Linked DNA regions of Homo sapiens: region 2 is linked to region 1. The links come from fine-mapping of genetic effects on gene expression. Tissue or cell type: lung. Region 1 holds a variant in brackets; the other region holds the start of a gene. All regions are shown on one strand. Distances are between the middles of the regions.

Evidence for each region. PIP is the estimated chance that this variant, and not a neighbour inherited with it, causes the effect.
Region 2: MYO16 starts here. The variant in region 1 is fine-mapped to the expression of MYO16 in lung (TOPMed, PIP above 0.99).

Annotation. Positions count from the first base shown.
Region 1 is chr13:108,422,825-108,431,039 of GRCh38, forward strand. No RefSeq gene overlaps it. Among named protein-coding and RNA genes, the nearest start is that of TNFSF13B, 160 kb to the left of the region's middle. The variant C/T (reference allele first, on the strand shown) is at 4,046.
Region 2 is chr13:108,625,387-108,633,566 of GRCh38, forward strand. It overlaps MYO16 (myosin XVI), which reads left to right and starts at 4,225. Exons shown (of 35, transcript NM_001198950.3): 1 at 4,225-4,486. The coding sequence starts at 4,459.

The DNA.
Region 1 (8,215 bases):
CTCTGGAGTGACTACACGTGTCTACATCCCTACCTGTTAAAAATGCCCAAAGGATGTCTGTAGCTTTGGAATCAGGGACAAACTTGATATCCTAACTTCGTTACTTTTTTTTTCTTTTTCACCTCTGGCAATTTTGTCCACTTTCTTAGGAGCCGTAGGTATGTATTTAAAGATTTACTTCAATGTATCCCACATTTCCAGTTAGACAGTGGGATTGAATTTTAGAATATCCAGGCCTCCATATTGCTGGAAGTAAAATTTTAGAAACAGTTTGTCCATTGCCTTTGAAAAATTTGTTAGGATTTGCATTGCACTGAGGCCTTAATTACGGAAGAATTCACATCTTTACCACACTTCCTCCTACGAAGTGGAAAACCCCTTCATCTGTTCAGGTTTTATTTTTTGTCCTTTAGTCTAATTTTAGGGTTATCTTCATAAAGGATTTCTTCAGGGTTCGGTAGATTCATTCCTAGACATTTTCAAGTTTCTGAAGCTACTCCAAATGTCCTCTGAGTTCCTATTTTATTTTCTAATTGATTATGGCTGCTTTAGTGAACCACAGCTTGTTTCGAATGTTGTTCATGCCTCTGGCAATCTTGCTCAAGTTTGATAATAGTTCCAGAGGTTTGTTCATTAATGCTTCTGGGTTTTCAAGGTAAATATTTACATGATACCATCTGCATATATGACGGGAGTTTAATCTCTTTCCTTTAAGGGCGTCAGTCTCTTCCTTCATTTTCTTATAATGTGTTGCACATTATTCACCTGTAAGAGGAGTGTTTACTTTCCTTCAGGCTTAGGGGGAGGATTTAATATTTATCCAGTGTTTTCATTCAATGTGATGTTTGCTTTATGTTTTGAAATGTTTATATATCCTATAACAAGTTTAGAGGGAGTTCTATATTTGACACCCTAAAAACACTTTGTTTCCCACTTTAATCATGAAGTGAAGATTATCAAATTCCTTTTTGACAATATCAAGATGGTAATTTTTTTCTGTTTCAATTCATTATTGATATACGTACAATGTGAAACCATCTTTCATTTCCAGCAAACACCCTATTTGATTATAATATCATTTTTGCTAGAGTATACATTTGCTTTTGGGTATCAAATATATTTTTGGTAGCTAATATTTTATGTAAAATTGTTTCACCTATACAAATATATCAACATCAACTAGGATTTCCTTTACTTTTTACCACCCTTGTTTATTTTTGATGTTGGCATTCTAAGTCTTTTCCCTCATTTTCTATTCTCTGGACCATTTTATCTTCTTTGCCATATTCTGTAGCCACTTGTATAATATAGGAATTTCTTAAAACTTTGGCAGAATTCATTTGTAAAAACACATATGCCTGTAACTGTCATGCACACACGTGAGCGTGTATGTGAGAGAGAGAGAGAGATGCATGCATGTTGATGTGTGCAGGCTTTTAAAAGGAAAAGATTGGCGGGGCACAGTGGCTCACGCCTGTAGTCCCAGCACTTTGGAAGGCCCAGGCTGGGGGATGACCAGAGGTCAGGAGTTCGAGACCAGCCTGGCCAAAATAATGAAACCCTGTCTCTACTAAAAATACAAAAATTAGCTGGGCGTGGTGGTGGGTGGCTGTAATCCCAGGTACTCGGGAGGCTGAGGCAGGAGAATCACTTGAACCCAGGGGGCAGAGATTGCATGAGCCGAGACGGTGCCATTGCACTCCAGCCTGGGCAACAAAAGCGAAACTCCATCTAAAATAAATAAATAAATAAATAAAAATCTCTCTCTCTCTCACACACACACACACACACACACACACACACACACACACACACAAATAAAATAAAAATAAAAATAAAATATTTCGAATAGCATTATAAAATTATAAATTATTATTGACCATGCCACATTATTTCTCATTATGCTGTTTTATATTTTATAATGTTTTTGAAAAATTTAACCATGTAATTTAGGTTTTCAAATTCATTGGGGGTATCATTGTACAGAAATTTTAGACTATATTTTGAATCTTTAAATTTTTGAGTCATTTTGATAATTTTACCCTATAAAATCTGTTTCCTGCTTATTTGCATAAAATTTAAAAATCAGTATGTAGAATATTTTTTCCTATATCATTAGTCTTCTAAAAGAAACTTTTTTTTCCAGTTTGGTAATTAAATTTACTTTATTTCTATTGTATTTCATTTTTGTCTTCTCTTTAGTATTTTCTTTCTTGGTTTGTTTCTTTATGTTTAATCTGTTGACATTTTTCTTGCTTCTGAGTTCAGGATGAGTTTATTTCCTGATAAATGTTTTAGAAGCTGTATATTGCCCTCTGAATTCTGTCTGCATTCCATGCATTTTGATACCAGGAACTCACACTTGATGCCTGACGCTTGATTGCTAGTTATCGGGGGCCATCACTCCAGAGACCTTGAAGTGCGGTCTCCCTTTAGATTTCCTCCTTGCTGTGTGATGTGTCATATGTCACTGCCTGTCAAGAGCCAAGCTCTCATTCCAGAGACATAACTAACGGTGAAATAATGAAGAGCTGAAACAAACAGTCACATTAAATACCAAGCCCCACATTTCCTCAAAAGTTACCTACCTTTTTCTTTGTCCATTCAGGCTAATATAACAAAATACCATAGACTGGGTAGCTAGTAATCTAAAGGAATTTATTTATCACAGTTCTGGAAGCTGGGAAGTCCAAGATCATGGTGCCAGGAGGTTTAGTTTCTGGTGAGGAGGGCCCACTTTCTGGTTCATAGGGGGCACTTTCTAGGCATTCCCTCACATAGTGTAAGGAGCAAGGGAGTTCTTTGGGATCTCTATTATTATTATTATTATTATTTTTGAGAGAGAGTCTTGCTCTTGCCTAGGTTGGAGTACAGTGGCGTGATCTTGGCTCACTGCAACCTCTGCCTCCCAGGTTCAAGTGATTCTCCTGCCTCAGTGTCCTGAGTATCTGGGATTACAGGCACGTGCCACCACGCCCAGCTAATTTTTGTATTTTTAGTAGAGATGGGGTTTCACTTTGTTGACCAGGCTGGTCTTGAATTCCTGATCTCAGGTGATCCACCAGCCTCAGCCTCCCAAAGTACTAGGATTACAGGTGTGAGCCACCATGCCTAGCTGGGGGGTCTTTCTTATAAGAGCACTAATCTCAGCCATGAGAGATCCACCCTCATGACCCAATCACCTCCCAAAGTCCTCATACTCCTAATACCATCATCTTGGGAGTTAGGATTTCAACATAGGAATTTGGTGGGGGGACACAAACATGCAGACCATAGCACCTTTTCACCCCTCAGGGCTTTGCGGTAGCAAAAATATTCATTAATTCCTCAGTTATACAGTGAGTGTACACCAGGTACAAACCTACTGCAACGGGCCTTCAAGATAAACAATCAGTGGTTCCTTCCCCTTGAACCACACAGTACTCCTGTTCACAGTAAGAACAGCAGGGACAGAGAATAAGGGTTCTAACATGACCTAGCAAGATTAGGCCTCCATATTAGTAGTCACATTAACCTAAGAAAAGTTGTCTTCTAATGTAAGTGCTATTATGATATCTAATCTACATTCTAGGTGCCACATTCAATCAGGAATTTAATTGATATTTTCAGTTAAGAAATGTATTTTTCTGCCTTGTGGATTGACTGATCATCCTGTTCCTCTTTGATTCCAATTACATGATGTTTTCCAGACTAGTGTGTTCACTAACTGATAACTAGTAGTCTGATTTTTATATTATTTTATCTTTAACACAGTAAATCGTGGCAAGATTTTAAAGAGAATAAATAATCTTAGGTATTACACAAAACTCTAATTGTGAACTTTTGCTGGTTCATGTGATATTATGGGCTAACTATTGAATCAATATATTTCTGATGATAGTTTTGCTTTCTTTGATGTATTTGTTCATTCTCTCAATTAAATGATGAAACACTATGCATGTTCACCTAAGTTGTACATTGCAATAACTTGACGACGGTGGTCTGTGTTGTCACCTTGTTTATGGTATTGGCAATCCAGATGTGTGGAATGTTAATCAGGGAACAT[C/T]CATAGGCTATTTTGAGACTCTCAAAGAAAAGTCAAAAGGACAGTAAGCATGCTTAAGGATAAGTACTCCCAAAGAAGTTTAAAGAGCCAGGGTATTTAGAATACTGTAACCACAAAGCAAGAAAGTACTCAAAACAAACAAACAGAAAACTGGGGCATGTCAAAAGGACTCAGCAGGCAGCCTGAAGGGGCTCCCACTGGACAAATTTAGGACTGCACTCTTGACTGAAGGGCAAACCAAACAAAATAAAAAGGTTCTGCAAAGAACATTGTTGAGATATCTGACACATTTGGAATGCGGATGTTAAAGTATCATACCAAGGGTAAACCTTCTGATTTTGATAACTGTACTGTGGTCACATAAAATAATGGGAATGTCTCACTCTTATGAAATACACATTGATGTATTAAAGGATCAAGGAGAATGATATATCCAACCTACCCTCAAGGAGTTCTGAAGAAGCAAAAACAAATTGTGGCAAATGTTTAAAAAAATGGTGGATCCGGCTAAAGATGATTTGGAGGTTCTTTACACTGTTTTCTAATTTTCCTAAAAGTATAAAACGATTTCAAAATAAAACCAAAATAAAAAATTGGAAAAATTGCCTTATCCTCTTTTTCCATGGTATGAAAAGCAAGTCACAGAATCCTCACCGAGGGAGCTGAGTTCACAGTTTGCTGAGTCAATGTGTGAGTGTCACCAACATGACACATCTGCCCATGCACAGGAGAGAGGCGGGAAGCTGGCAACTGCTGCAGGGGATCCAAGGCTTCTTTATGCTTTATGTACCAGCAGAGACAGACACAGCCTTTATTTAGTTCTTGCATGATTGGTGAAATTGATCAAAAAGTCTTTAGTTTTTAGATAAAGTGAAGCTAAATAAAATAGTGTAGATCCCTACTATGCAAAACATGTGTGAGTGAGTGTATCTGGGTAATGCTCTTCCTATATCTTTCTGGTGTGCTCTTGCTAACTGTATAGGCAATTTGGTTAGATGTCACCTTAATCTGGTTAACAACCAGTTGTTGCCTGATAGTAGCTAACCAGAGATGAAGACAGTGTAAGGAAAAGAGCTTAAACAGCTTTTCTAGGCCTCCTGGACAAAAGACAACTCTTTAGCTGGTAATGATAGGTCATAGTGATTTCTCAGAATCAAAGATTTTTCTTTTAAATTCTTAACCCCCAACTTTGTGTGTTACCCCAGTGTATTTGCAGCAGGTCACTGTATTTGCAGCAGGTGGTTTCTGGGTTTTGGCAGGGGCTCTAAACTCCAAGCATAATGTAAGAACAATGGTGGTAAAAACATGCATATCCTAATAGCAATGCTAGAGATGAAAAATTGTTCCGCCAGCCCATCACCCACTTTGTAGATAAGAAATTGAACTGGAAGGTACAAGAAAGCAATAAAATTGTGAGACTGTTATGGTGTTTCTGCCTTTACTCGTGTGAAAGGGGGAGGGGGGGTTTCCTCCCAGCAAGCAAATGAGAAGGGGCTCTAAGAGTGTCTTCAGAGGGCTTGGCACATGTCCCTAGACTGAGAGACATGGAGACCGATATTTGACCCACAGTTAAAAGTCTAAAGGCAAGCAGCTAAGACCAGAGCTGCCACCTGAATGCTTGAAAAGCAAAGCAAAGTGGCTATGTGGGGACCAGCTACACTTCACAGTGAGAGGAAATGTTTGAGTTTTGGGGGAACCAAGTATGACCCTTCTGATGGAGGCTGGCTTGAAGTTTGCTTAAAAGGGATTCCACTCACGATAGGTGGAACAAAGAGACCCCCACAGAAGGATGGACTGCCCAGAGGCTAAAAGGTGAGTCGGAAGCAATCAGTAATAGAAGCTTGTGCCAAACTAACTGCAGTGGGAGGATCCCAGCTAAAGGTAGCACAGCCAGTGAAGGGCAGCCAAAGAAAGAGAGGGTGAGCTGCGGAAACATCCCTAGTGCTTGCTGAGCAAGGTCACAACTCCTGACTGCATAAGATGGTGCCATGCCCCTCAAGCTGTTCCCCATCTGGGCCTCATCCTGGGGCAGTCAAAAGTGGAAATCAGAAGACCAGGAAAGAGAAAACTGTGAAGAAAGAAGGGGGCCATCCCGCCTTCCTCCTCTACAGACTTCCTGAAGCAGGACAGAACTGGGGCAGGGAGCAGTTTACATTGGACCAGAACTTGGGATTCTGATTGTATACTAGGGAGAGCTCTTTAAAAGCTGAAATGAGGCTGCACTTGTGACCAAAAGAAACTGGAAAAGCTAGAAAGCCTTCCTGAAATTTTTCCTGGTAGCCCGGGAGAATGGTTCTGCTGGGTGAATTAACGGGGAGGGGTGAGAGAGTAGAGCGGCTTTCTGCTTCCAGCCTTTGGGATCCAGCATGTTCCATAAAGTGGTTTAACACTTCAAATCTTCATTTCAAGAGTTCCACAGAAAATTCAACATCAGGATTCCCAGGACTGAGCTCTTCATTATCTAATCTTATCCTCCTTTTGAAATCCCTGTCTCGGCAAACGGGACCATATCCCAAGCCAGCAGGGGTTGCTCCATTGCACCTACTGGTGTTTCCACCTCCAGCCTCATGAAACTCACCAGAGTTATCTTGCATACCACTGCAAGGCCATTGTCCTGCTAAAAGAAATGAGTTCATACACATTCTTTTTAATGTATCACCTGCGTTTCAGCCCAGGACATGGTACCCTTCATGCCAAATTTCTACACAGCTGTCTCATGTAAACTCTCCTCCTGCTTGAACCATAGGCATCTACACTCTGTGATAGGCATTGTACAGCCATGCTGAACTACGAAGGGATCCCCCAAGGATACCGTTTTTCATCACTCTGAGGCATCATATCTTCTGCTGGCATTATCTAAAATGGTATCTCCTTCTCCAAATTATATTTTGTCCTACAAAACTCAGGTTAAGCATCACTATTTCATAAGCTCTTCTCCTGGCACCACGTTCTAATTTATGTGATCTGCCTTAGTCCTCCCCTCATAATCTGCAGTTTACTGTATCAAAGCCCTTATCATACTTGGCCAGGAGAGCTGACTTACTTATTTTCTCTTCCTTACTGTACTTCACACTCTTGTATGTTTTGCTTGAAATTACATTTCAGCACAATATCTGATGCCAATTATGTGTTTACATATTGTTTGTTGGATAGATAGAAAAATAATGGGTGAATGGCTTTCTTAATGCAGTATATTATTATTATTTAAACCAAAAGCTTATGTTCAATAATGCTTTGCAGTTTGCAAATTGTTTCCTATGTATTATCCTATTTGTGTCTTACTTTACCCTATACAAAAAGAGAATCCAAAGTTAAGAGAAGTTAGAAAACTTTGACAGGTATCAAACAGTATTTCTTTTCTTACTTTTCTAACAATTGCAACTTTACAAAAGAGTTGGAATTGAAGCACAAAATTAATTTTTTTTCAGAACTACTTGAGTATCAGTAGCCAGTCCATTACCCATGAACACCGAATACTTTAGTGTTCTAATAAGGAAAATACAAGGCAAAACACAGCTGTCAAAATCAGGAATTAATATGGATAGATGACTACCTTATAGTCCTCAGACCCCATACAACTTTGCCACTTGTATCTATGATATCTTTTATATCAAAGGGTCAGAGGTAAGCATTGCAGTTGGTCTCTTCAGCCTTTTTCAGTCTCGAAGAATCCCTCGGTGTCCCCCTCCCTTGTATGTCATGATCTTGATGCCTTTGAGTAGGAAGTAGGGTATTTCTCAGTTTGGACTTTTATGCTGCTTACATGATGTGGTTAAGATTATGCATCTTTGGCAGAAGTGTCACAGAAGTTGCACTGTTTTTTTCTCATCCATCTTCGGGTGGTATGTGTTGTTGGTTTGTCCACACTGATGATCATGGATGAAGGTGTTGTCTTCCAGGATTTTACATGGCAAGGCTATATTTTCTGCTTTATAATTAATACATATTTTGTGGAGCTATATTCTGAAACTATGTAAATATCCTGTTTCTCATCATGCCTTCAAATTATTAATTTATTTTCATCTGTATGAACTCAGGATTTCATTTTCTAGTCAATGGGTCATAATCTATTACTCTTATTATTTACTTTGATGCTCCAGTTGTCTTTGAGTTAACCAGTGCTCTTGTTCAAACTGACTTATGAGTTCTTTTGACATTTCCATCATACTT
Region 2 (8,180 bases), 200 kb after region 1:
GGGTTGACCAGAGGCTGATTCTATAGCAAGAGCTGAGTGTATTTATGCCTTATTTTTTGACAACTCAGATATTTTCTCCTCTGTAGGCTTCAGCCTCAAAGGACCCTAAGTTATTAGACCGGAGTTATGTTCCCAGGAGAGGTCTTGACTCCATTCACCCAGAAGCAGTCAATATTTGTGATAGAGGAAATTATAAATTTAGCTGTCAGCCATTGTGTGTGAGACACCTGTGGCTCAAGGTCTCTAAATGTGTGTAATTTACTTCATCAAAGGCTAATATTTATAAGCCCCAACCTATTCACAGGGCAGAGGCAATGATGCCCCATCACAGAGCTTAAATTTGCATAACAAAAAACTGTTGTGTGTGATTTATATCTTCATTTAGAATTTTTGTCATGACCTACTGTTAATACGTACCTTTCCCAAATTGGTGATGTTTGCAAACTTTAGTTTTAATTTCTTCATTTAATAAAGCATGTCAATGCAGGCACTATTAGATTAGGAATTATCTGTCAGCAGACTGGCATTATGAAACTACATGTTTTACATTGTCCAAATAGGTTTTAAATGAAAACATTAAGTAGTATCTCACCTGGGGCCTTTTTGGAGCTGTGTCTCATGTATCCCATTTTAAAAGATATTTACTAAGCAATTTCTAACTTTTGAATGCTTATCTCTCATTAGAATCATTGCAGTTTCTTTTTTTGTTTTTGGCTGGGAAATAATTTAGCCTTATTTGAAAAAATCTGGTGTATAATAATGCTAACATTTAAGAGAAAAAAAATCATGTGTTCATATCAGAAATAGTGTGAATAATGAGCAGCTGTATGGTGTATAAAAGAGAAAAAGGGGTTTCTTGATTATTCAAAAATGAGTTTGAAATATTATGCATTCGTATTTGGAAAGAACAATAGTTCATTGTAATAATACTGAAAAATAATAAAATAATTGTGCTTTATGCGTTTGAAAATTTTCTGGAAATGCAAAACAATACCCTCTTTCGAACGCATGGATTTAATTTTGTACTTAATGACCATATTCTGCAAAATAGATAAATTGCTAACCATATATTTAATTTAGCCTTGGTCATTTCTTGCTACTGTCATCAACTCTGATACCATATTTAAAATATAAGATTTAGCCGGGCATGGTGGCTCATGCCTGTAATCCCAGCACTTTGGGAAGCCAAGGCAGGTGGCTCACCTGAGGTCAAGCCTGACCAGCCTGACTAACATGGTGAAATCTCATGTCTACTAAAACTACAAAAATTAGCTGGGCATGGTAGTGGGTGCCTGTAATTCCAGCTACTTGGGAGGCTGAAACAGGAGAATTGCTTGAAACCGGGAGGCAGAGGGTTGCAGTGAGCCAAGATCGCGCCATTGCACTGCAGCCTGGGTGACAGAGAGAAACTCCATCTCAAAAGAGAAAATAAAAGAAAAGAAAAATATATATGTGTGTGTATATATATATATGTATATTATACATGTATATATGTATATTTTATGTATATATGTATATTATATATATTATATATAGCTATATATAATATATATAAAAATATATATTGTATATAATATATATATTATATATTATATATATATATGATTGAAGGAGTCCTGAAATTATTGTTCTGACCACCCAACAGTGAGTTGAGTTTCTCAGGGATGGATATAGAGGAGGAAATTTTAATCAACTTCAAGTTACCATTTTTAAAAAATTTTATGAAGGAAGTAAAGTTAATGGAACCAAAATTATTTTCCTCAGTATTAATGCCTGCATTAGAAATTAATTTTTGTTTTGTAGTGATGAAATATGTAAATAGGTTTAAACATAGTTCTACCAATGTTTAGAGCATGAGTATGTGGTTTCAAAGACAAAAAGATAAAAGGGCTTCTTAATCTGGGGAAATTATATGTAGATACAGTTTATACATAGAAAGCACATTCTAAGTAGTTTAAGAAATCTGTGAATACATTTCTCAGTGTATCCTCCTTCAACTCCTCAAAGTGGATTAGATGTTGGCTCTTGTTGTTTTAGAGGTCTACATTTGTAGTCTTACAGTTTCTAGCACACAACACTGTGCTATCTTGATTGTCTCTATTTCATCTGACGATAAGCACTTTGAGGTCAGGGAGTCAAGTTTCTCTTATAGCACAAAGAGTTGCCAAATGTTTATGGAATACATGAGTCGATGAAAAATAAACACATTTGATAATGAGCCCCTGGAGATGAGATGTTAATTCTCACGGGGTACCTTGGTTAAAGTTCTTATAAGAAATGCCTTAAGTTATTGAAAAAAGTAGGGCTCAAATCAATTATATTTTTAATAACATATTTTCTTTGTCAAGTGCACAACATGCCCCTCTGAGTGTTATGCTTTTTTTCAGTTTAAAGAGTGAATGGTATCATTAAACTCAATTGTCTTAAGATGTTTGCTGAGTTTGTATACATGCAGAGGCATGCAATTTGCAGAAAATTAAGACATTCAGACATTTAAGGAAGGTATATAGGCAACATACTATTTATCCGGCATTGTATTAAGAGAAGGGGGTAGGGACATCTACATGGATACAACCTTACCCGAAGATACATTAGATAACATTCACATAAATTCACAGTTATTTTATGCACATGTAAAGATTTGTATTGATTTAAAGAGGAGAGAGCTTTACTTCCCGTGTTGGAAACAGATATAGTTGTGTCTTACAGTTTTATTGAAACATTACAAAACATCCAAGAAACCCTTTAAAAATACATTATAGATTCCTGGTATATAAAGGCTCTGTTTTAGACATATTTTATTCCTGAAAAGCACCCAAAATGGTGACTTTTGTGACAGTGACTCTCAATAATTAATTGTGGAATCAACGAATAAATGAGGAATCAGCATTCCTGATGAAGGCTGCAAATCCTCATTCTAATTTTTGGAAAAGCCAAGTTAAAGCGTCCATAATCATCATTTGGTACATACATAAGTTTTTTTCCTTGTTAATGTTAATGACAACTTTTCAATGAACACCAACAACAGAAACCAGAAATTTTATGTGCATTATTTCTAACCTTCAGAATAAAGATTAGGAATTATATTTCACATGCATAGATGAGGAAACTGAGGCTTTAGCAGGTTAAATAATGTGTTTACATTGATACTCTGGTAAGTGGTAGAAGCTGGATTTGACATCAGGCTGTTCTGTGCGAAATCTTCAACTTATTATTTTACATCACGCTACTAAAATGTGTTAGAATATTATTCAGTGAAAATGTAATAGTCATGACCCCTTGTTGTATAGATTTGAATTTCATAATCTTCTAGTTTAATAAAAGCACTGCTCTTTGAGTTTTGTTCAGTAAGGAATACAAAATTATGTTACTGCCACAGAAGGATGGGTGCACTTAACATATTGTTCATGTTTACCTTTCCTATAACCTCAAACCTGAAACATAAATTCTAGACTATGTCAACTTGTCTTTGGAGAAGATCATCATAAAAATGTATCAATTTGCAAAAAAAATGTATCACTTTGAATTTGTAAACAACTTAAAATATAACCTTTTGGTTTGCTACCATGGCTATTTCATTATGAGTATGATATTCACTTTTATAACAATAAACCCTAGCAGACCATATATTTCTTTCTGATTCCAATTCAGTCAGATTTACTTCATCCAGTTGGGTTGTACAGTTAAATTCATTGCAGTCTGCAGAGGTAGGAGAATCCTAAATTTTAAAGCTATGCAAACCAAAAGCTTTTTGTGGATAATTTAAGTTTTACATTCTGCTCAGAAAAGCAGAAAGATGTGTTTTGAAATATAATGCAAGTTTTTCATTACTAAGGACAGATCAAAGATCTCTGATTCTAAGAGGTGGCTATTTTAAGCTCCTGCTATCAATTTCCTATTCACACACAGCAACTGGTGGCAACTAAAAATAATCCGCTTTACTACCAGCTAAGAATCTGGTCATATGTGGCTGATGGACAGTGTGCACGAAGAAGATTTAGGATCCTTCTATCCGTGGCTTCTCTCCAGCCCACTCATCAGCTTAGTTTGCTGCCATTTGAAAGCTATTGAAAAGCCATTAACAGGCAGGACCGGGAGAGCCGCACTGCAGCACACCTCCGTGCAGCAGAATGTGGCTGCATGTGAACACCAATTAGAGCTGACTATTCCCGGGATTGTGGTACTCGGGGCTGTGTCAATCAAGGGTGCTACAATAGCACGTGCACCAGTGGTGCCTCAAGACCCACCGGGGAGAGGCTTATCTTAACTCCAGCTGCCGAATGAGAATGAGTTTGAAGCTTTTTGCAGGATCATGGAACAGAGCCTCCATGCAATAGTGCATCCTGAGGTAAACTGTTACCTGAGTAAGGGCTTTAAGTAATGCATTTCCTGGGAACGACAGTTGTGACAGAAGAGAATGCTGGAACCCGTAGCAAGATTCCTGTCTGAGATGGAAAGATGTCTCACTATCATTTTATCAAGTGCTGTAAGTAAGCTTGATATCTTGCTCATGTGGTTATTTGTCTTGTTGAAGTATTATTTTGTGCAGATGCCAAAATTAAGGCAGTTCTCCTGGTATACCACATTCAGATGAGTGACATAGACTGGTGACTTAGAAGAATATTTTACAGGCTGGATATATTTCCTTTTAATTTTAGATTGTGAAATAATTCCAGTGTGATCCAAATGCTAATAGCACAGAGATCTTTAAAACTTCAGCTTTTTAAAAAAAATGATTCATAGACACAGCAACCAGAAAAAAAAAAAAACACCAGAAACACATGGAAAGAAATTACAAAAGCATATTTTTGCTCATTGGCACATGTTAATAAAGTACATAAAAACTAAGTTTATTAATATATGGCTGAGGTCATTTAGCTAGTATTTTAGTCTCAAGTTTTACTGCTTAAGCCTCTATTCAATGCTTTTTGTAAGTGTGATCTTTAGGGTTATCCTTGACTGTAAACTTTTGTCCTTGTATCATTCACCTTGCGGTGCTTAGGGACTCCAGGGACTCTGTACCAAATGCTCTCCACTGATGTTCATATGGTGAAATTTAGTTTGTCACCAGGTTCTCTTTTGGGCTTATCAAGGGTTTCTTTAGCGTCTGAAATTTTGGCAGAATTTTCTGAGCTAGAGAATACTTCCATCTAAACCAATTCTGGATGGTAATAATGAAGAGGAAGACATATTTATCCAAAAATGGCTTGCTGGATATACATTTTTGTCCCCTGCAGCACTTCTGAAAACTTCTGTACATATATATCATGATCTTAAAGTGACAGATGACATTTGCAGAAAATGGTTTTCTTTTAAGCTTAAGGTTTTGCTGCCAAAGGACATCACAATGTTAAATTGAAGCAGCATATTAAGGGAACACATGTGTTGAATGAATCTTGAGCTTTGCACTAAAGGAGACTAAAAAAATAATGATGATTGAGAAGGTGAAAATATTTACCTTTCTCTTATTTTTGGTAGAGAATGTATACAGGAATTAAAACTATGATTAATGGAAATAAAAATGCCTTACTCTTAAGCATTGCCAAGAATGTCATGCTTTCATGTTGCAGAACAATTTCAATTCCCAAAAGGATTCACTGGTCATCTCGTAAGTTTGCAGATTAGCTCTTTAACTAATAAGAATTAGAGGCATGCAGCGTATTTAAGAATTTTGAGAATAGTCTTCTGCTTTAATCTGTTAACTCTTGGGGTTATTTTCTTGGAGAAATAGACACAGGGCAATACTCTGACTGGTTTTTGTATTGCCTCTCGTGTTTTACTGCACTAGCAGAATGTCATTATTTTCCTTGCTGTGCCTCTGCAGAGGAAAAACTCTGCATCTTTCCTACAAGGAACCTGGATGCTCATTAGACACATTGAACACACCTGGTGGAGGGCAGCCATGGAGCATGGGTGGAAGCACAAAGGGACAGTGACATGGACGTGAGAGATTCAGGGAGCAGTTGGTCACCAAACACAATATGAGTCTGCCCTTTCCTGCCTTTTGTTCTGTTTTAGTTGAATTATTTGATTGTAGAATTTCGGAAAATTGTAGACATTTCAGAAAATTGGTGATGTCAATTGGAGCCTGTGAGATATTTCTTTTAGCATGCTAGTATAAGAGATGAAATCTAAAATTAATGAATTTAAACATTCCTGATGCATTTCTGAAAGTAATTAGCAACTACTTACTAAAGATCTGACTGCTTTCTAAGCTTTGAGTGTGACAGTCTATAAAATGGAAAGGAAGCATGAATATTATGAAATGCTAACTTTACTGGAGAAATGGTGCGATGTGTTAAGGAGTTCAGAAATTATACTGCATTCTGTGCTGAACTAGTGAAGGGTGTTTTATGAAAAAAATGCATCTTGAGCTATATCTTGGAAGGATGAACAAAATATAGAAGAAGGCCGGGCGTGATGGCTCACGCTTGTAATCCCAGAACATTGGGAGGCCAAAGCAGGCGGATCACCTGAGGTCAGGAGTTTAAGACCAGTCTGGCCAACATAGTGAAACCCTGTCTCTACTAAAAATACAAAATTTTGCTGGGTGTGGTGGTGGGAGCCTGTAATCCCAGCTACTTGGGAGGTTGAGGCAGGAGAATTGCTTGAACCCGGGAGGCGGAGCTTGCGGTGAGCTGAGATCGCGCCATTGCACTCCAGCCTGGGTGACAAGAGCAAAACCCCAACTCAAAAAAAAAAAAAAAAAAAAAGAGTGAATGCCCTCATGGTATCCTAAGGGTTTATTGATAAGGATCATAATTCATGGTTTAATGGTTGTTCCTGATGCGTAAGATTTTCCCAAATTGTTGTCTCCCATATTGGGCTGATCTGCTGGCGAGGTTCATCGGCCTTCGTCACACTCCATTCCTTCTTCGCCTGTCCTGCATTTCTACCACATATCTGTCTTTCATTCTGAGCCAGATTTATCACCATAGCACGTTCACTTTCAAGCCAGACAGCAATGCAGGAAGTGGATGAATTCCAGGGCAGGAGCAGGACCTTCTGAAATGTGCAACATTAGCATCCCATGTGCTCCTAGTGAATCACAGGAAGCCTTCAGGTGGGATGCTGGGTGACCAATAGCTAATGCTCGCAAGGAACTGTTAGTCACCTGGGAAAATACTCATCATCTAAGGTGAAAAAATTATACGCTTCAAGGTCGAAACTTAATCTAACAGTTGTTATCTCCAGTTTATGATAATATCTGTTACTTTGTAAAACATTTTTACTTTATTTTAGAGAAGGGTTAAAAACTAGAGTGTAAAAATTTACTGTGGAAGCAGGATATAGCAGGAAAGTGTAGGAACACCACAGCAAAAAGTGTGGCCATTTCATGTATCTTGGTAGCTGAGAAGTAGCTTTAGACAGATCTGCAGTGAGAGCCAGTCTCAGAGCCCCATGCCTGTTGAGAGGTAACACATGAACATGACCAGGCCCCAGCTGAGGCGCAAGCAGAAATGAGAAATGGAACTCAAGGGAGTCATGGGCTCACAGAACTTTAAGGCCATGTGAGACTTGAAACTACTTTTGTTTTAATGAACTGAAGCGGAGGCTTGAGGTCTACCTGTGGAGTTCCCTTCACGTGCCTCTGGGGGTGAAGCATTGCAATAACTACACCTGACCTATTTCTCTCCTGGTTCAGCTCTTCTCTAAGCATACGGGTTTGGGGCAGCATTGTTTGCAGCAGGAGGAAGGTTAAAGTTATTTAAAATGAATATTCTCCAGAGCTGAGAATTCATTTACAACACCTAAGAACGAATTGTATCAGAAAATCTGTTACTTTATATGTTGTATTAGTCAGGGCTTTCTTGAGGGGCAGAACTAATAAGATAGATGTATATATAAAGGGGAGTTTATTAAGGAGAATTAACTCACACAATCACAAGGTGAGGTCCCACAATAGGCCATCTGCAAGCTAAGGAGCAAGGAAGCCAGTCAGAGTCCCAAAATATCAAAAGTAGGAAAGCTGACAGTGCAGCCTTTAGTCTGTGGTCAAAGGTCCAAGAGTCCAAAAGCGGAAGAACTTGGAGTCTGATGTTCAAGGGCAGGAAGCATCCAGCATGAGAGAAAGATGTAGGCTGGAAGACTCAGCCAGCCTGGTTCTTCCATGTTCCTCTGCCTGCTTTTATCCTAGCTGCACTGGCAGCTGATCAGATGGTGTCCATCCAGATCGAGGG